Regions from separate parts of the Homo sapiens genome. Here region 1 is linked to region 2. The links come from fine-mapping of genetic effects on gene expression. A gene starts in region 2. The other region holds a variant in brackets. All regions are shown on one strand. Distances are between the middles of the regions. Region 1 holds the start of PSMA7 (proteasome 20S subunit alpha 7). Region 2 holds the start of LSM14B (LSM family member 14B).

What was found.
Region 1: its variant is fine-mapped to the expression of LSM14B in breast (GTEx, PIP 0.94).

The regions. Positions count from the first base shown.
Region 1 is chr20:62,138,894-62,148,693 of GRCh38, reverse strand. PSMA7 (proteasome 20S subunit alpha 7) reads left to right here and starts at 5,300. Exons shown (of 7, transcript NM_002792.4): 1 at 5,300-5,486; 2 at 7,750-7,876; 3 at 8,789-8,913; 4 at 9,497-9,619. The coding sequence starts at 5,391. SS18L1 (SS18L1 subunit of BAF chromatin remodeling complex) reads right to left here and starts at 4,925. Exons shown (of 11, transcript NM_198935.3): 1 at 4,805-4,925. The coding sequence starts at 4,873. RefSeq lists silencers at 4,449-4,498, 4,529-4,588, 4,709-5,418, 5,459-6,098. The variant A/G (reference allele first, on the strand shown) is at 4,402.
Region 2 is chr20:62,117,329-62,127,128 of GRCh38, reverse strand. LSM14B (LSM family member 14B) reads right to left here and starts at 4,654. Exons shown (of 9, transcript NM_144703.3): 1 at 4,336-4,654; 2 at 2,349-2,512; 3 at 690-825. The coding sequence starts at 4,462. It overlaps LOC105372706 (a long non-coding RNA gene), which reads left to right and starts at 3,445. Exons shown (of 3, transcript XR_936963.2): 1 at 3,445-3,673. RefSeq lists enhancers at 3,078-3,765, 3,766-4,454, 4,455-5,142 and silencers at 3,806-4,345, 4,506-5,595.

The DNA.
Region 1 (9,800 bases), 22 kb before region 2:
CCACCTCCCCCGTGGCGCTTGGGTTCAAGGGCCTTGCAGAGCGCCTCCCTCACCTGACCTAAGACAGCAAGGAGGCCGAGCCTCCCTCACCTGACCGAAGACAGCAAGGAGGCTGAGCCTCCCTCACCTAAGACAGCAAGGAGGCCGAGCCTCCCTCACCTGACCGAAGACAGCAAGGAGGCCGAGCCTCCCTCACCTGACCGAAGAGAGCAAGGAGGCCAAGCCTCCCTCACCTAAGACAGCAAGGAGGCCAAGCCTCCCTCACCTGACCTAAGACAGCAAGGAGGCCGAGCCTCCCTCACCTGACCTAAGACAGCAAGGAGGCCGAGCCTCCCTCACCTGACCGAAGAGAGCAAGGAGGCCAAGCCTCCCTCACCTAAGACAGCAAGGAGGCCAAGCCTCCCTCACCTGACCTAAGACAGCAAGGAGGCCGAGCCTCCCTCACCTGACCTAAGACAGCAAGGAGGCCGAGCAAGGCCGGTGGCTGCGGGGTCCCTCCCCGGGGCTGAGCCCAGGCTCCGGAATGAGGGGACCCAACCCCCCTATCCCTGCGGATGTAAAGACAGGCCCCCATGCTCCCCTTCTCGGGTGGGGGGAGCCTCTGATCGCAGGAGGAACGCTGTCAATCAGCCACATGCAAGGGAGGCTCGGCATCCCCAAGCCATTCAGTCACTGGACAGCTTTAACCTTACAAACACTCCTAGCCAAATTAGCTTGCGTTCCTTCAGACAGCAAGTTCCACTTCTGAGGGAGCACACAGGGTGCCCACTGCCTACTGGGTGTGCACCCCATCCTCCGCAGCCCATCCCCACCCAGAAGTGCGCCCCTTGCCCATGCCCCACCCCCGCACCTGGGTACCAAGGACATGGGGTAGGGCTGGTCCAGCTTCAACAACTCCCTGGCTCTCGGACCCTGGGCACGGCACTAACCCACCCCACGAAGGTCTTGTCTTCCCACACCAAACCCACCCAGCAGGCGGCCCCAGGGGCCCACCTCCTCTCAGCTCCATCCCATTCCCTCAGAGCCTTTCCCCAACCCTGCCCCGCAACAGGTGCTGGGGATCCAGACACCCAGCAGACAGGCAGACACCACTGCTATTATCCGGCCAAGGAAACCAATGAGAAAACCAATACAAACAGAAACAGTAACACATTTATTGAGCAATTACTGCATGCCAAGCAGCAAAGAGGCAACTCAGGGGTCCCCTTCAAGCCTGGCCACATGGTCCGAGGTGACCACTGCAGGCCCAGCCCCAACAGCAGCGTAAGGAGCACGCACTGGACAACAGAACACTACAGTCCCCAGCTGGTGGCTAGAGAACACCCAGCCAGGCCCAGGGCCACCGTGGGGACATGGCCCAGCCCCACCGCAGGGTTCCCCAGCACAGTCATGTCCTCTGTGGTGCTTGCCACAGAGCAGTTCTGACTGTCTCACCCACACACTGCTGCCTGGTCACCACCAGCTACCCTCCCCACATCAGCCCAGCACCCCCTGCCCTTCCACTTTAGGTCCCCCAATACCTGCTCCATGCAGGCCAGGCTCGGGACCCTCTGTGACTCCCTGCCCCTGCCCCATGGTTCTCTTTCTCTGGGATAGCCCTCACCACAAACGCACTCTCGTGGGCTAAACTGTACCCAGACCCCTGGTGCCTGCGCATGGGAGGTACTGGAAATGAGGTATTTGAAAATGAAATAAAGACGGGGTCATGCTGGATTAAGGTAGGCCCTAAAACCAGTGACTAGAGTCCTTATAAAAAGTGGGAAATTGAGGCCAGGCATGGTGGCTCATGCCTGTAATCCCAGCACTTTGGGAGGCTAAGGGGGGGAGGGGGCAGATCACTTGGGGTCGGGAGTTCAAGACCAGCCTGGCCAACACAGAGAAACTCCGTCTCTACTAAAAATACAAAATTAGCCGGGCGTGGTGGCACGCGCCTATAATCCCAGCTACTCAGGAGGCTGAGGCAGGAGAATCGCTTGAACCTTGAACGTGGGCGGGGGCGCGGAGGTTGTGAGCCCGAGATCGCGCCACTGCACTCTAGCCTGGGCAACAAGAGCGAAACTCCATCTCAAAAAAAAAAAAAAAAAAAAATGATCAAAGCAGAGACACGCTGGATGCACCTACAAGCCAGAGAACACCAAGGGCTGCCCGCAGTCATCAGAAGCCAGGAGAAGAGCAGGTAACTGACCCCTGGACTTGGGACTTCTGGTCTCCAGAACTGTGAGGGAATAGATTTCTGTTGTTTGAAGCCACCTGGGTTGTGGGAATGTGTCAAGGAAGTCACAGGACACGAACGCATCTGCTTATCTCAAAACGCTTCCACTGATGGGACCAGCGTCACAGATGATCCAGCACGTGCTCAGCACTAACTGTGCTCAGACACTATGAGAGGCTGGGGATCAGCAAAGAATAATCAGTCACATGCCAAACTCAGGAGCTCAAGCAAGTGCTACAAGGGCCACATGACTGCCGACGGAGCATGAGACGCGGAACACGTGAGTGAGGCTTTGAAGGTTGAGTAGAAGTTGGCCTGGAAGATCTCCACCCACACAGAATGCTGTAAGGACAAGGTGTAGACCTCTTTCTCCTTCACTACCAAGCAGAATGCTGTAAGGACAAGTTGTAGACCTCCTTCTCCTTCACTACCACGCAGAATGCTGTAAGGACAAGTTGTAGACCTCTTTCTCCTTCGCTACCACGCAGAATGCTGTAAGGACAAGTTGTAGACTTCCTTCTCCTTCACTACCACGCAGGCTTCAGAGGGGTCCCTGGCTTCTCTTAAAGCTCTCGGCATGACACTACCAGCACACACTGTGGACACAGCACACGTCTGAGGCATAGAACATACACCTCTCACACCTTTCTCAGCCTTCTCACACCTCCCAGTAAAAGATCCCTGGGTACATATATTCACCGTCAAAACACCAAGCCCAATACGCAGACTGCTGGCCCTACCAAGCCAAGTCAGCAGCCTAAACTGAAGGCCTATTTCCAATGGTCAGCAGGCTGAGTTTCTGCCCAGGGACCCACGGTCCACAGGTGCATTTCTTCCTTTCTGATCTGATGTTCGGGGCAGCACCTCAATACACACTTTTACCTGGAGAATTTGGGGAGCTTCAATGGAACTGTGTGCGAAGTGCAAATAATGGGATAAACGTTGCAGCCAAAGGTAGCTTCAGGAACAATGACTGTTAAGCTCCAAAAAACCAGAGTGCCAGGAGATGCTCTGGGTTCCAACATTTGCCTCTGAGCCTAGAGCTTGACCTCCGCCTGGCCAAATGTTCCCAGATCAAGGGGCACCAACAGAGCAGACCCTGGAGCCACCGTATGGGATCGACACCTGGCTGTGCCACTTACCAGCAAGGCATTTAGCCCCCCTAGGCCTCAGTGTCCACTTACCAGCAAGGCACGGCCTCCCTAGGCCGCAGCCTCTTTAGCTATTAAACGGGATGCCAGTAGCTTCTATGAAGAATTGGATGAATCAAGATTTATAAAACCCCTAGAACAGTGTCTGGGATACGGTAAGCGCCACATAAGTGTTTACTAAGTAAATTAAAATGCCACACTTGTAAATCTGTATTTCTGCTATTCTCAATCTCTCCTGTTCAGAGTTGGCCAAGGTTCTCATTTGTTAAGACCATCAAATTTCTAAAACTAGCAACAGCAAAGGTAGTCTCAAAATAGGCGATAGATTTAGGACAACTTCCACAGGAGACTGGCACGTCATCAAGGAATAACAGCCTCAGTCAAGGTCAAGGTGAACCCCCTTAGGGAGACAAGCGGCTCCTGGGAACCTAGGAATACCACTGTTTATCCCTGCAATCCCACCAGGGTGAAGACGGAGTCAGAGTTTAGGAAAAAAAACCAATGTCATTCCAACAGATGTTGTGACAACTGAAACGGGTATGGCTAATGCTGATTTTCTTCCGAATCTGTCTTCTACAGAAAAAACAGCAGAAAATACAAAGTCTCAATTTCAAAACTTAGGGCTTTGGATAACGGTGTCCCAAACCCACATAAACGCTGTCTCTTGAAAACCACAAGGCCGAACTTACGGAGCTAGAAGAAAGGTTGTGGAGCAAATCCGTCAAGTTTGTTAGGCGAGGCGGCTGGCGAGGGTGTCACGCTGAAACCCGGCGTAGCCGCGAGGATACGGAGGGGGCGGTGCGCTCCCTACGGGGCCGGGCTGCGTAACGATGCCCCGCAAATGGGGATCGGGACGCGTCCTTCCGTGCCTCCATCGTTCGCGCCTCGCTCCAGGAGCAAGAGGGGCAGCCCCGGCCACAGTCCCCGCGGTCGCAAGTGCGCCCGGAGGCCGACCCGGGCCCCTCACCACTAACCAAAATGAGCGCAGAAAACGAGTACCGCCCGCCGTCGCCACCGAAGCTGGCTGCGGAGCGCGAC[A/G]AGCCCTCGCCGCGGCTCCGGCCCCGAGGGGTCCCCGTGCGCCCGGCATAGCCCAGGACAGTTCCCAGCGCGCGCCGCGGACTCGGGGGACAGCGCGCTCGGGGGCCGGCAGCCTCCAGCGTCCGCCCGGCCCCCACCGCCCAGTGCCCCGGCCCGAGGGACCCGCGCGCCCCAACAAAGTTGGCGCAGGCTCTCCGGGGACCGCCCCCCACACGGCCGGGTGCCCGCCGGCGCGCAGGCGTGGGACGCGGGGAAGGGCACGGGGCCGCCGTCGGGGCTCGCGGCCGCCCGGCTGCGCCCCGGCTTTGTTCGCGCCCCGCGCCCGCCAGCTGCCCGCGCCCCGTCCCCGCGCGCGCCCGCCCGCAGACCCGCCGCCCAGCGCCGCCGCTCCGGCCCGGCCCACCTTCTGGATGGTTTGCTGCGTAACCTCCCCTTTGCCTCTTGGCCGGGCAGACGCGAAGGCCACGGACATGGTGGCGGCGCGGGGCTCAGCCCGTGGTCATCGAGGTGGATACTCCGGCTGCGCTGGGCGGCCCGAGGCGCTCATTATCCGCAGTCGCGGAGGGGGGGAAGGGGGCGGGAGCGCGGGGGGCGCCGCGTCGTGGGCTCGTCCGCCCCGTCGCCGTCGCCGCGCCTCCGGGCCCGCGGCGCCGCCGCTCCGCCCTGCAGAACGGTCTGCGGCCCAGTGCCGAACGGTGGCCCCCGGCGACCCCCTCGCACCCAGCGCCCGGCCCTCGCCGGAGCACCGCCTCCCACCCCCGGCCACCGGTGGTTCGGCCTGACCCCGCCCCGGCGCGCGCCATCACGTCCGCCCGACGCCGCCTGACGCTGCCCGTCGCCGCCTGACGCCGCCCGTCGCCGGCAGCGCAGGACACGGCGCCGAGGGTGGGGCGCGGGCGTAGTGGCGCCGGGAGTCGCGGGTGCGCGCGGGCCGTGAGTGTGCGCTTTTGAGAGTCGCGGCGGAAGGAGCCCGGCCGCCGCCCGCCGGCATGAGCTACGACCGCGCCATCACCGTCTTCTCGCCCGACGGCCACCTCTTCCAAGTGGAGTACGCGCAGGAGGCCGTCAAGAAGGGCTCGACCGCGGTGAGGCGGCGGGGCCTGCGCGGGGCCGGGGACGCGGGCGGAAGTGGGGCTGGGGAGCCCAGAGAGGGCCGGGGCCGGGCGCGGCGCTGTGGGCGCCCGCGGGCGTGCGCGGGGCAGCGGCGCGGGCGGTCAGGGCTGTAGCTGAGCGCGGGCCCCGCTGCCGGTCTCCACGAGTGCCTGCAGAGGCGGCGTTTGGCGTGAGCCGCGAGCGCTCGTTCTCCCCACTCAGCGCCTCGCTTGGGGCCCGGCCTCGCGTGGGGCCCCGGGCACGGGGGCCGTGACGACGCCATCTTGAGCACCCCTGGCCCCGGCCGGGCGCGTGGGTCGCGCCGCCGCCCCGGCGAGCAGAGGCCGGGCGAGGGCCGCTCTGGGCCGCGGAGCGCGGGGGGTAGGCCGTGCGCTCGCTGGGGGGCTGTTCACGCAGCCGGGTGGCTGGGGAGCGAACTACTCAAACCCCCCTTATGGGGACCCCCACCCGCTCCGGGGCAACACTTATTCTCTAGGCCCAGGTGGGCTTCGAGAACAAAGCGGCTCGCTGGCCTGGCCGGTGGCGGGCGCCTCCCAGGTCTCCGCACTCTGCCGGGAGGAGCCTTCCCGGGGCCGGGCTGCAGCCGCCCGGGTCAGGACTGGTTTGGACGCGGCCGTTTCGTTTTGACGAGGGCTCGTGTACATTGACCTTAGTGACATTGTTTGAAACTTAAATTCGTACCATCAAGACGTGTCAGTTTAATTGGTCAGTCTGTGAGATCGTTATTCTTTTATCATCTGGTATTCAGAGGTTTGAGCAGGCAGAGAAAGCAGCACACACGGTTCTGTAAATTTTGATTTGTTTTCATTTTCTGAATCTTTGTTTTGAAATGAAGGCCCAGTATTCATCAGGTGATCTAACTCAGCTTAAAGAGGACTAGGAGTCGGCTGACCCCTGTACCCACCCCAATACTGCCACCCCCGCCAGCTGGCCGCCGCTGGCTTTAACGAACCCATATAGCTTCTCTGGGCCTCGAGTCAGTCGAAGGTCAAGTGAGTCAGTACCTGAGAAAGCTCCCAGAAAACCCAAACACTTCAGATCAATACTTCTCAGCCAGGGATGGTTTTGGGCCCACACGGAGCCACTGGCAGTGTGTGGAGACTTTTCCAGTGGTAAGACCTTGCAGAGGTGCTCTTGGCATTTGGAGGGTAGAGGCCAGGGACGCTGCTCAATATCCCACCCGTGCTCAGGGCGGCAGGCACAGGGAGATCCCCCTGCCCAGGTGCTCACAGTGCTGAGCTGGAGAAGCCCTGCTCTAAACCAGGAGGCGCTGTTTATCCCAATGATGGTTCCCTTTGTTTCTGGCTTGACTCGGGTTGACTGTCAGTGATTGTTCATGCTTTTAATAACAGCCATATCCTTCTCCAGCATCAGCCATAAACAGTTTGGGATAACACTTGACACCTTGTCCACTGACGGCAAATCAGGCCCCTTCTCATGGCTGTCACATGAGTATGTCACAGTGCAGGAAACAGTGCATTGTGGCTCAATATAATTTCACAACTACAGAAACACTGCCTTCAGAACACCAGACTTGAGTGAAAGTCTCAGGCTTCCAGGCTTTGCATGGGACTGATTCATTGGGTTGAAAGGAAACACATGCCGATTATATAATGGTTACTTACTAGCTATGTTGTAACTAAAACTACATCTCAGTATTTGAAAGGCCCAGGTTGGGCACCTAGGTGAGCACGCCTGGGCTAGCTCTACCAGCAGTAGATGAATACCCCTGGGTTTGCAGGATGTGGTGCCAGCCACAGTGACAGACAAGTAGAGGAGAAAGGGGTGTGGGTGAACGCACCTTCCAGTGGGAGCTGCTACCCGGAGTACGTACCCCCCAGGACCCAGGTTCAGATCTGCTCCTACTGCTCGCTGCCTGGCAGTAGAACCATGTATCACTTTTTTGGGAGGATAGGGTGGGGTGAGGGGACAGGGTCTTGCTGTCTCTGTCTCCCAGCCGTCATGGCTCACTGCAGCCTCCACCTTCCAGGCTCTAGCGATCCTCCCACCAGCCCCCACAGTAGCTGGGACTACAGGCTTCAGCCACCACACCTGGCTAATTTTTGTACTTTTTGTAGAGACAGGGTTTTCCCATGTTGTCCGGCTGGTCTTGAACTCTTGAATTTAAGTCATCCACCCACCTCAGCCTCCCAAAGTGCTGGAATTAACAGGCATGAGCCACTGCACCCAGCACTCATATCACTTTCTTACGTGGTTTGTGGATCTTAATTAAAGGTTGGTGTTCGAGGAAGAGACATTGTTGTTCTTGGTGTGGAGAAGAAGTCAGTGGCCAAACTGCAGGATGAAAGAACAGTGCGGAAGATCTGTGCTTTGGATGACAACGTCTGCATGGCCTTTGCAGGTATGAGTCGGTGGGGAGCGCTGTCTTACTCTCTAGAGTCTCAGCGAAGAATAGGGCTTTGGAGATTAACTTGGGTGTGTGGGCTATTGTGAGCCATATAAACTGAGTAAATGAAAATCATTTAAAAGAATTGGATTTGGACTTTTAAGTTGGCTAGTTTCTTTGGTGGCCTCTCTCTGCCATAGCAGGTGAAACAAATGGCTAAATGGATGAAAACACTTCTGGCTGCTGCGCAATTTGACCTCCACTGTTATTTTTCTGTATCAATCAGTTACAATCTAGAGAAAGGCTGGACTTTCTAGAGCTAACTGCATCTGTGGCATGGAGAGGACAGAACCACGTCCTGCCATCCCCAGCAGTAAAAAGGACCACACTGGTGGATGCAGGCCATGCCTCGCCATGTTCTCAGCGCTGTTTTGGTCTTGCTCATTTCTCCTCTCAGCAGATGCAATCTAGGAAGATCTCAATTCATGTAATGAAATTAGGGATTAACTCAATTTCTAAGATTCCCAAGAGGACTCAGGTACTGTATTTAAGTATGGTCTGAAGTACACAATTCTTCATATGCAGACAGTCCCTGTTGATCTGTGTTTTTAAAAATCCAGATTCTGCACGGCAGCCTACAATTTTTTATTTACAATGGGTTTATGGGGTAGTAAATGCATTTTCAGCCAGGTATTTTTGACTTACGATGAGTTTAGCGGGATACCACCCCACTGCACATCAAGAAGCATCTGTACCCAATTTCCTGGAAGTTCCCAGGGGCTGATAGGTTCCGCTGCCAGTCAGTTAGAATAGCCTTGCTGCCGGTTTGGGGGGTCTGTGGAAGGTTAAATGCTGGGTCATCGTGTCTGTCCCCACCCTGTAGTTTGTGCTGTCTCTCTAGCAGAAGCCTCTCTGCTTTCCTTGCAGGCCTCACCGCCGATGCAAGGATAGTCATCAACAGGGCCCGGGTGGAGTGCCAGAGCCACCGGCTGACTGTGGAGGACCCGGTCACTGTGGAGTACATCACCCGCTACATCGCCAGTCTGAAGCAGGTGGGTGCCTGCCCGCTTGCATGCTCACCTCTGGCAGCAGGGCAGTCACGGCTCCGCCATGGAGGGTCCTGCCATGTCACTTCAGGTGAATCAGAAAACTGATTTATTCTGGGGCGTGATCCTAATCTTGACTTGCACAAGTGTAACTTGACCTAGCTCACCAATTTCAGTAACATTGTTCTGTTCTCAGTTCCTGGCATGGGATATTCCAAATTCCTGTGTCTGGAGGGAAATGATAGCTTTTGTCTTGCCATCCTGAGTGACCAGTCACAAAGCAGTTGAAGGGGGCTGGAAGCCACCCTATGAGGACACGCCATTAGTATGTAAGCAGAATGTGTGTCTACCTGTCAAAGTAATTTCCAGTAACCTGAGTTCACAATTCTGGTCCTAGGTGAGTTTTTCTAGGAGTGAAAATGCAGAAAAGGATGTTGAAAGCTATTGGCTAATGTATCATTTGAACTGCTGATAACCTGAGAAGGGGCTCAGGCATGGTTTAAAATGTTCGTATCTTCACTAAGTACGGTTCTTTCCTCACATGCAGTTTCTTAATTGGATGGCACTGACCTGTTTCTTTTCTTGCTAGCGTTATACGCAGAGCAATGGGCGCAGGCCGTTTGGCATCTCTGCCCTCATCGTGGGTTTCGACTTTGATGGCACTCCTAGGCTCTATCAGACTGACCCCTCGGGCACATACCATGCCTGGAAGGTGAGTTCGTGACAAAGGGGCTTTGGACAGTCTTGCCAGAAAAAGGCTTTGAGGGGTGGGAGGTCCTGGGCTTCCTGCTGTAGGCCCTGTATCAGTGAATGAGTCAGTTTAAGTTAACCTAGTCCTATGAGAGCAAGAAAATGATTAAACATTGCTGTTTGGAAGAAAATCAAAGGGCAGC
Region 2 (9,800 bases):
GTTTGTATTTCACGTCTATATTTACAGGCTTATAAATGTGCAAACAGCTAGACTTCATCTGTAATACTACATATATATCAGCTATTTCTTCTTTGAAGCAGATATACCAGGACTTCCACCTATTTATTTTTTGAGACAGAGTCTCACTGTGCCGCTCAGGCTAGAGTGCAGTGGTGCAATCTCAGTTCACTGCAACCTCTGCCTCCCAGGTTTAAGCAATTCTCATGCCTCAACCCCCCAAGTAGCTGGGATTACAGGTGTGTCCCACCACACCCAGCTAATTTTTGTATTTCTAGTAGAGACAGGATTTCCCCATGTTGGCCAGGCTGGTCTCGAACTCCTGACCTTGTGATCCACCCGCCTTGGCCTCCTAAAGTGCTGGGATTACAGGAGTGAGCCACTATGCCTGGCCCAGGACTTCCACCTAGATCCGCCCTGACTCTTCGAATGAATTTTGATTTGATTCTTCTGTTCCAACACTCAGGCTGCTGCCTCTTTTACTTTCAGTTGAGTAGTTACTAAATGCTCTCACAAGCGGAAGTTGCACTGGGTAATTTACTAAGTGTGCAACAAAACAGTCTACAAGCTGAGCATGACAGGAATGCATATCCCCACCCTCAGGCTCCATCGCTCCACTCAGTGACAGTTACACGCAAGGGTAGTTTACCAGACAGAAACAGGTCACTCACCTAGACCCAGGGAGGCGGCATACTGCTGGCTGAGCAGGGAGCTGGCCGCCAGCGGGCCGTAGGGCGCCATCCCTCGGAAAGGGCTGTAAGGCACGTGCGGCTGGAAGGGCGAGGCGGAGGCAGAACCCAGGGAAGACTGAACAACGAGACATCGGGTGAGAACGGCGAAGGCCATCCCATCACCCCGCACGCCTTCATCAGGGCGCTTGTTCAGCTGGGAAACAAGCACCGTCCCATCAGCCTGCACCCTTGAGATGCTGGAGGAGCCCTTGGGGTGCAAGTTTCCAGTATGGTGAGAGCTGCCTTTTCCACAGCATTTCAGTTCCAGTTTCACCTGTCCATGTAATTCCTTTTTTTGTTTTGTTTTGTTTTTTGTTTTTTGAAAGAGTATTGCTCTGTCGCCTGGGCTGGAGTGCAATGGCGTGATCTCAGCTCACTGCAACCTCTGCCTCCCAGGTTCAAGCGATTCTCCCAGCCTCAGCCTCCCGAGTAGCTGAGATTACAGATGCCCACCACCACACCCAGCTAATTTTTGTATTTTTGGTAGAGACGCGGTTTTGCTATGTTGGCCAAGCTGGTCTTGAACTCCTGACCTCAGGTGATCTGCCCACCTCGGCCTCCCAAAGTGCTGGGATTACAGGTGTCTTGTCCATGTAATTCTAACCCAAATTTCTCCTAACTCAAAGCCATCGGATGGCTTCCCACTGCTCCCAAAGCCGGCCCTGTGTGATCCCACCTTCCAGGATGGGTGCTCAGCACAGAACCTAATGCAGTCTGAACCCCAGAGGAGCTAGTGAATATTTAAATTTAGAAGTGAAGAAAATATTAATCTGGGCTCCCTGGGGGAGCATGGGCAAAATAAGCCATAACCCAATAAGCAGGCACATGGCATCAGACTTGCAAATCTGGTGTTGTATAACAGCAGCATGTAACGACTGGGCGTAACCCGAGGGCAAGCCCTGCAGTCCCTGCAGGTAGGTCACGCCACTCACAGCAGCTGCTCAGGGCTCAGACTTCTCCAACCAGAAACTAAGGGCAAACGCTATGCCCGAAACATCACAGGTCCAGGAGCATCCACTCATACCACACTACACTACACACGCGCACATGCACACCCAACTCCCCAGGTCGCCTTCCTTAAGAGCCACGTGACACAGCACACACCACCTACTGTGTGTGCTACAAGAATCAACACCTTCTGTGAGAGCAGCAACAGCCTGGACAAAAGTTAAGCCACTTTTCATTAAAAGGTTATTCCTCAGGCTGGGTGTGGTGGCTCACGCCTGTAATCCTAGCACTTTGGGAGGCCAAGGCGGGTGCATCACAAGGTCAAGAGATTGAGACCATCCTGGCCAACATGGTGAAACCCCGTCTCTACTAAAATTACAAAAATTAGCTGGGCATGGTGGTGCGTCCCTGTAGTCCCAGCTACTCGGGAGGCTGAGGCAGGAGAATTGCTTGAACCTGGGAAGCCAAAGTTGCAATGAGCTGAGATCACGCCACTGACCTCCAGCCTGGTGACACAGCGAGACGCTGCCTCAAAGAAAAAAAAAAAAAGGTTATTCCTCACATTGAGCGTTCTGACCAAACATGCCACCAAGCTCCAAATGGAAACCAGCATCTCCTACAGCATGCACAGAGGGACAGTGGCACACTTACCTGAACAATGGCGGGATCCTGCGGGAGTGTGTGCTGAGCTTTCGGAGGTTCACACACAGTGATATCCTTGATGTCACTTCCTCGGAAAATGATGTACTCATAAATCTCCTCTCTGGGGGGCGCAGGCCTATCTGTGGGACGGTCTTCAGTGCCAAAGGACCTCACTTATGAGTGGAGAAAGAGAAGCGTTATTGTTGTCCTCAGCCAGTTCAATCAACCCTGACACCACTGCTCCCAAGCCTTCCAAAAGACGGCGACACTTGCTCAGAGCCACAACACAGCACCCCAGGTCCACATTTCAACAACTACTTAATGCCCCGATTTTCAATGGACAGTGCTGATAATGCACCAATTGGTGAAGCTCCAGACAACAGACAGCTCTAGATCACAAAGATGACAAGGAACAATTTCACAGACTGACAGTCTGATGTGCGAAGGCACCAACGTACAGAGCTCTCAGCAAAACAAGGCTTGCTTCGTAAGGCCTCCCTGTTCACGTTTGACTCTGTAGATCCAACAGCCAGCCGGCTGCTTTATGCCCAAAGCCTCACCGCACATTGCGCCTGAGGAGGCAGTTTTCTCACAAAGGAATCTAGACGAGTGTTGCCCTTACCCTTCTATCCATAACAAACCTTGGAACAGCTGTAACAGAAAACAAAGGGAGACAGGGTCCCAGGATTATGGACCTCTGACCCCGGCTTCCGCATCTATAAGGAATTGAGTCTACTAACCCCTAACCAGCAGGCTTCCAGGAGCGCCCAAGTCTCTTTCTAGCAAGCCTCTAGGGGCAGAGGTGGGTGGGACAGCAGCCTCTAACTGGTAAGACACAACTCCTGCTAACTCCTGGGCCTACTCTGGGCCTCAGCTTCTCTAACTGGGCTCTCCTGTAATAAGTGTAGTGAGGTTCCATGGCTGCAAGTGAGTGCATAGCCCTGGCATACTCAACAAGCTCCTGAAGCCACGCAGGAGACGGGCTTCAAAAGGAGACACTCCCTGTTTGGAATGAGTGCGTTCTTCTACACATGAAGTTCCCTGTGACCTAAGCAGCGTTTCAGACGCGTCTAGACACTTCAAGAACCCCTGGGAGCCTAGCGCCAGATCCAGCACACACACGGGCTTAGGCAGACGTGGCTCCACGGGCACTTTTCTCTGAGAGGCAGGGGAAGTGCACTCCCCGTCTTCTCTGGGTGATGAAGACAAAGAAACTCTGGACCACCCGCTGCCTCAACAACCTCAGAGATTCTGACTCTAAAGAGCCCCCCTCCTGTAAGTCCTCCAGCGGCCACAGCCGGTTACGAGCACCCACAGGCGGCTGTCACCAAAAGGTAAGCCCCACAGTGGGAAGGTCAGGATAGAGCAGGAGAACCGTTTAAACCGGGGCATCTGGCTGCCAACGGATGCTTCTGCCTTGGCAGGAGGCCGCATTAGGACGCGGTATTTGTTCAGGATCAAGGCCCCAGCTGTCTAATAAGTTCCAGAAAGGCTTGCAGGATTCGCGTGTTGTGACCCCACCCCCAGCCTTCGGGAGACGCCGGGACACTGGCCCCGCCACCCGACCTCGAGGCTCCCCCGCAGGGATCCCCCCAGGCTGGCGGGGAGGAGGCCCGCTGACGGGAGCCGCCCTGCTCCTCGGAGCTGGCACCTGCAGAGGTGGGCTGGGCGGCCGAGGGGGCGGCACCGCGGGGGCCGGGCCCGCCCCTCACCAAACACCGCCGGGCGCCCGCGCACAATCCCGCCGCCCTGGGAGCCCAGGGAGACCATTGTGCGGCCGGCTACGCTGGGGGAGGGTGGCGCGCGGGAAGGGGGCGCCTCGGGGGCGTCCGGGGTGAAGGCGCGGGCAGGGGATCTCGGGCCGGGTGTGCCCTGGGTGGGTTCTGGGCGGGGTCTGGGCGCCAGGCTCCGGGGCGCCCCGGGGCGGGGAGGGCACCGCAGGCCGGGGCTGTTGGCGGACGGGGGTCAGCGGGCTCGGGCGGGCGGCGGCCGCTACCTTTGGCGAGCGCCACGGTGGAGTTGTCGGTGTCGATGGTGTAGAGAATGCCCTCGTAGCGGATCTGCGCCTTGGAGATGAGGCTGATCTTGCTGCCCAGATACGGGGTGCCTGAGGAGCCGCTCATGGCGGCGGCCGGGGTGCGTCGGGCCGCGGTGGGGAAGGAGCGCCGGGCCGCGGCCCGCTCCGCCGCCGCGCGGTGGCCTGGCCGCCCGCTCCTGCGCTCCTCCGCCCGCCGCCGCCTCCGCCTGGGCGCCTCCTCGCCACCGCCCGAGGGGCCTGCGCGGGCACCGAGCGAACCAAGAAGGGGCGCGCGACTGGGGCTCTGAGAGGAGCGCGGGGGAGGAGGGGCCGCCGCAGCCACATCCGGGGCCTCGCGCCGCCACGCACCGCCACGCACCGCCCCTTCACGCTCGCCGCCCATTGGCTCGCCGCGCCCGCCGTCCTTTAAATATGGCCGGGCCGCCAGCTGGGGGGCGGGCCCTCGCGTCGTTCCTGCGCAGCAAGGCGCCGCTGGCCGGGGGCGGGTCTCCCCGGCGATCCGCCCCACCCTCGGCCGGCTCCCGGCGGGCCCCTCGCGGAGCTGGGAGCACGAGACTGAGCGGGCGGGGGGAGGGGTGGGAAGCGGCCCGGGAGGAGCGCGCGTGCGCGTGGGCGGGCGGCTGCGGTTTGCACGCTCAGTGGGCGGGACCGGGGAGGAGCGCCAGGCCCCGCCCGCGCGCGTGCCGGCGCCGCCCCGGACCCTGGGCGCCGCGAACACGGGGGCTTTGCCCCCTTGGCCTCAGTTTCCCCTCCTACAGAAGTGGGGTCCGGACGACTCCCCTATCTTGGGCCAGATGCGCCTATAGCCCTCACCCTCATGGGGGACCGGGGAGTGGCGGAGGCCCTGGGCGCCGGGTGTTCCCGGGCAGCCCCGGGACTCCCGCCCCAGTGCCCAGGTGCCGGCGGGGGGCGGGCGCGGCGGCAGCTCCCGGGAAGGCGGCGCTTCCGGCGTGGCAGCCTCTAAATATAACATGCTGAGCACACTTTCTCTTTTAATCCTGCCCCTCCTCCCAAAGCCTGCCGCAGCTTTCCATTTCCCTTAAAATAAATTCTGACTGGCTACCGGGGGCCTCGGAGCCTCCGCTCGTACCCGGGGCTGCGGCCCGGAGGCCTTGCCCACCTCCCCGGCCGTGGAGGAAGCTCGGCCGCCCGCCGTCGCTTAGCTGCGGGCCCTCCTCGCGTATACTCCGCGTGATTAGTGACCGAGGGCGCGCGGTGTGTGCTTTTTTTGCTTCCGTCTTGACCGTGAACATCATCAGATCACGGACCAATATTGGGTCCTGGAAAAAAAAAGTAGTGGGTGGTGACTATAAAAATGCAATAGGCTGGGCGCGGTGGCTCACGCCTGTAATCCCAACACTTTGGGAGGCGGAGGCGGGCGGATCACTTGAGGTGAGGAGTTCAAGACCAGCCTGGGCAAAATGGTGAAACCCTGTCTCTACTCTAAAAATACAAAAAAACTAGCCGGGCGTGGTGACAGACACGTGTAATCCCCAGCTACTCGGGAGTCTGAGGCAGGAGAATCGCTTGAGCCTGAGACGTGAAGATTGCAGTCAGCAGAGATCTCACCACTGCATTCCAGCCTGGGCGACAGAGCTAGACCCCGTCTCAAGAAAAATAATAATAAAAATGAAATAGAATAAGCTAGAAGATATCAGATGGCGTGGTGGGTGGCTCATGCCTGTAATCTCAGCACTCTGGGAGGCCGAAGCGGGAAGATCACTGGAGGCCAGGAGTTTGAGATCAGCCTGGGCGACATATGGAGACCCCATCTCTACAAAAAAAAAAAAAACTTTAAAAAAAATTGGGCGAGTGTGGGGGCACATACTTGTAGTTCCAGCTCCTGGGGAGGTGGAGGCAGAGGCGGGAGGATCACTTGAGCCCAGGAGTTGGAGGCTGCAATGAGCTGTGATTGGACTACTGCACGCAGGGGTGGCAGCAAGACCCTATTTCTAAAGGAAAAAAAGAAAATAATAGTATCTCGCATGGTGAAAGTAAGTATTATTTTGTGAAATATTTAATTCACCTGTTTGTGTAAGTGTGGACTTGGTAAGGACCTAGAATGTGTTTCTGACTATAATAAGAAGATCTTACCTGCCCTGCAGGGTAGACGCTGTGACTCCCCATTTGACAGAAGGGGAAACAGAGGCCCAGCACGGGGGAGTCACGCAGAGAAGTTGCAGTCTGGCCTGGTGGCATCCTCCACAGGCTTGGGGCCGCATCACACTGTCTCTTGTCTCTTCACAAAGGTGAAGCCAACCTGCTCCCACCAGAGCCCGGCAATGGCCAGTAAGAGAACAGTGATGAGTTTAAGGAAGGGGACACAGGAAGCAGAAGAGAAGAGGGAAAATTCAGTTTCATCTGCCAAGATTGACCTGTACATTCTAGAATTGCTTCTTGGCTCCTGGAACATCATATGCAGGAAGAGAACAGAGACAGCAAAGCCATGGAGTCAGCCCAGCTCAGGGAGGAGAGGTCTCCAGCGACTGGGGCATCTGGCCCTGGGAAGCGCGACCCAGACTCTCAGCTTCTCAACACAGCACATCCTTCCCCACTTGGATATACAGGGTGCACCTGTCAGGAGGAGGTGCCAACCAGGTCTCCTGAGTGAGCTGGCCTGGTGATCCCATGTGGAGTCAAAGTCCTTCTGTCCCCCCACCCCACCCCATTTTCCAAGTAAGGAAATCCAAGGTCACAAATCCTGTACTTCATGCCTCCTAGTTTCTGAGCCACAGGCTTCTGGCTGTGTTGGGGGTGGGGTGCATGCTTCACTAGCAGGAGCTGATTCTGCCTTGAAAAGGAGCTGGCCTCTGAGCCCCCGGACTGAAGGCAGGGAGGGTGCAGTTCCCAGAGACCTCCGAGTGCCTGCCCAGCCCGTGGGTGTGCAGCTGGTGGCTCCCTGAGAACATTAGCCACCCTGCAAATGCCCAGGAAGGCAGAGGCTAAAAATATACGTAGTGCCCAGGTCCAGGAATGCAGGCCCTGCCATTCATTCCTTGGTATCCTGCCCAAAGTGGAGGGCACTTGGGTGAGGTCTGAGAAGGCGACAGTTGTGCCAGGCCTAAGTCGACCTGGACGTTCACTGGCATGGCTTGTTTTCCAGGCTGGGGCACATGTATCCAGCACCTCCACTATAAGCAGCTCTTTACTGTGCACAGGTCTGAACAGCCCACCTGCCTGGTAATCACCAGGCTTTAGACCAGCGAGCCCAAGGATTTGGAGGAATGAGCTGGGGCTTCTGGGAAACCCTGGGCCACTTGGACTGCCTGCCTCAGTTTCTTCATTTGCCTGTCCATCTCACTGGTGTGCTTGAGGACCCCGGAAGATCATGCCTGTGAAGGGCTTTGAGAGTAACCAGGGGCTATTCTGGAGGAACGTGTAGGAACTGGGTGTGCTGAGGGCACTGGGAGGGCCATAGGGACAGCTGGAGAGGTTTCTGCTGCAGCCACAAGCCACTCATTACGTGCTTGCTCTGTGTATGTAGGAGCATGCCGTGGTCCCCAGTGACAGGTGGGGAGACATGGAGTAAGGACCCTGCTCCACGTTGCATCACCAGTCTAGCTGGGGTGGCACAGGCCAGCATCCTGCAGCAGGTAAGGGTGCCCCACCACAGAAAACCATCCTGTGACTCTAATGTTCCCCTGAGCAAGAATGACTGGCACAGCCATTGATCTCACAGGTGTCATTGCTCAGTAGGCGCCACACAAAACAGCTGAGTTAATTCAGAGGGCGTTAACGATGGGTGGTCCACAGATAAGTCAGTGGTCTGAAGTGTGGCCACGTGCTGGTGAGACAGGACTCAACCGTCCCCGTCCCCTCATTCAGGATCTGGCGCAGGAGAGGGGATTGGGGAGGCCCTGCAGGCCTCAGGCCCCCTCCCCCGAGGAAGACCCTCCAACCGCACAGGTGCAACAGCACCAGCCTGAAGGGAGCTGAGGAGGGCACAGGTGTGCCGTGTGGGGAGGCTCAGGGCCAGCTTTGCTAGGAGGACTTCCGGGCAGGGAATGGGACAGTGAGGCCCAGGGAGGGTGTTCGGGGCACAGGGACCCACAGGTGGCTGGACAGTAAGGTGAGGAGGGAGGGCTGAGTTGATCCTGTACCATCAGGAATTCTCATGGAGGTCTGACCTGCTCTCTGTGAATCCAGTTAAAATCCATTTCCTCCTGCATGGGGCTCTGCAGGGCTGTTTTCCCGGGAGGCTGGATGAGCACCAGTGGGTTGAAGTTCAGGCATCCTCAGACCCTCTTCCCTCTTCCCATCCATCTCCCCCTCCTGCCTCCTGTCCCCCTTCCACCTCCCTTTCTCCCCTTCCCACCCCAACAGCCGAGTTTCCTGGCGTGAGGAGCCCTGTGTGATGGGAAGTTCCTTGGAAAATAAAAGAGGAGTGTGTTAAACTCCAGCACCTAGCGGGCAGCCTCGGCCCCGCTTCCAGGTGCAGCTGGAGGGACAGCTGGCTGGAGCTGATGAGAACCTGGGCAGACCCAGACACCAGCTTTCGAAATGTCAGATTCTGATAGGGCCAGCCCTGGTGCTGCCACCTCAGAATGCAGGATCAAATGCTGAGAGATCCTGGTGGAACAGAAGACGGGCTGTCAGCGGGAGGCTGGCAGCTTTTCTCTCCCGGTGGCTGTGAGGGGCTCCTGGGCTTTAGGGGCTCAGGAATGGCTGGGGTGGGGGCAGCATTCCCCAGCCCTGTGTTCTACTTGGATAGAAAGTAAACGATGAAAGGCCCCTTCTAAGTCAATCCACCACTGTCTTACTGAGTGTCACCAGCCCAGTCCCACCACTCAGTGCCAGACCTGGTGCCCAAGCCGGCCACGCATTTCCTCCCCGAACCCCTCCGCAGCCCTCCGGATGTGGTGCTGCACCTTGTGAGAGGAGGAAACCAGGCTCTCAGCCTGGGCTAGGTGACAGCCAGCGTCACACGGCCAGCACATGACAGGGCTGGGATTCCTGTGTCAGTCTGCCGGCTGCTAACCCTGGGTGCTCAACGTCCGGGCCTCCTCCCTGGTGGTCCTCTGTGCTCAGCCTTCAGGTTGGGGCGGGGGGAGGGGATAGTGAACGGCGGGAAGGGACAAAGCCCAGACACGATTTCTGCACTTGGAGCTCATGCTCTGCAGATGTCCAGATGGAGACTGACCTGAGGTTGGCACTGGGCATGAGGGAAGGAAGCAGCTTCTTCTTCAAGGGTCTCTCCTATTACATTGTATCCTCTCTTGACTCCATGCAAAGGATGCCGGGTGCGTCCTAGAGCGTTGCCATGGTTACTGAAGAGGCCTACGGGCTCATCCCAGCCAGGCTGGGCACTTGTCTTTACGCCTGCCTGATGCGGCACGAGCGCCTGCTGGGCAGGGTCACGGCCCAGGAATGAGGTCATGTAGATAAAGGAGCGGTGCAGATGTCGGGAGAGGTGTGCCAGGCTT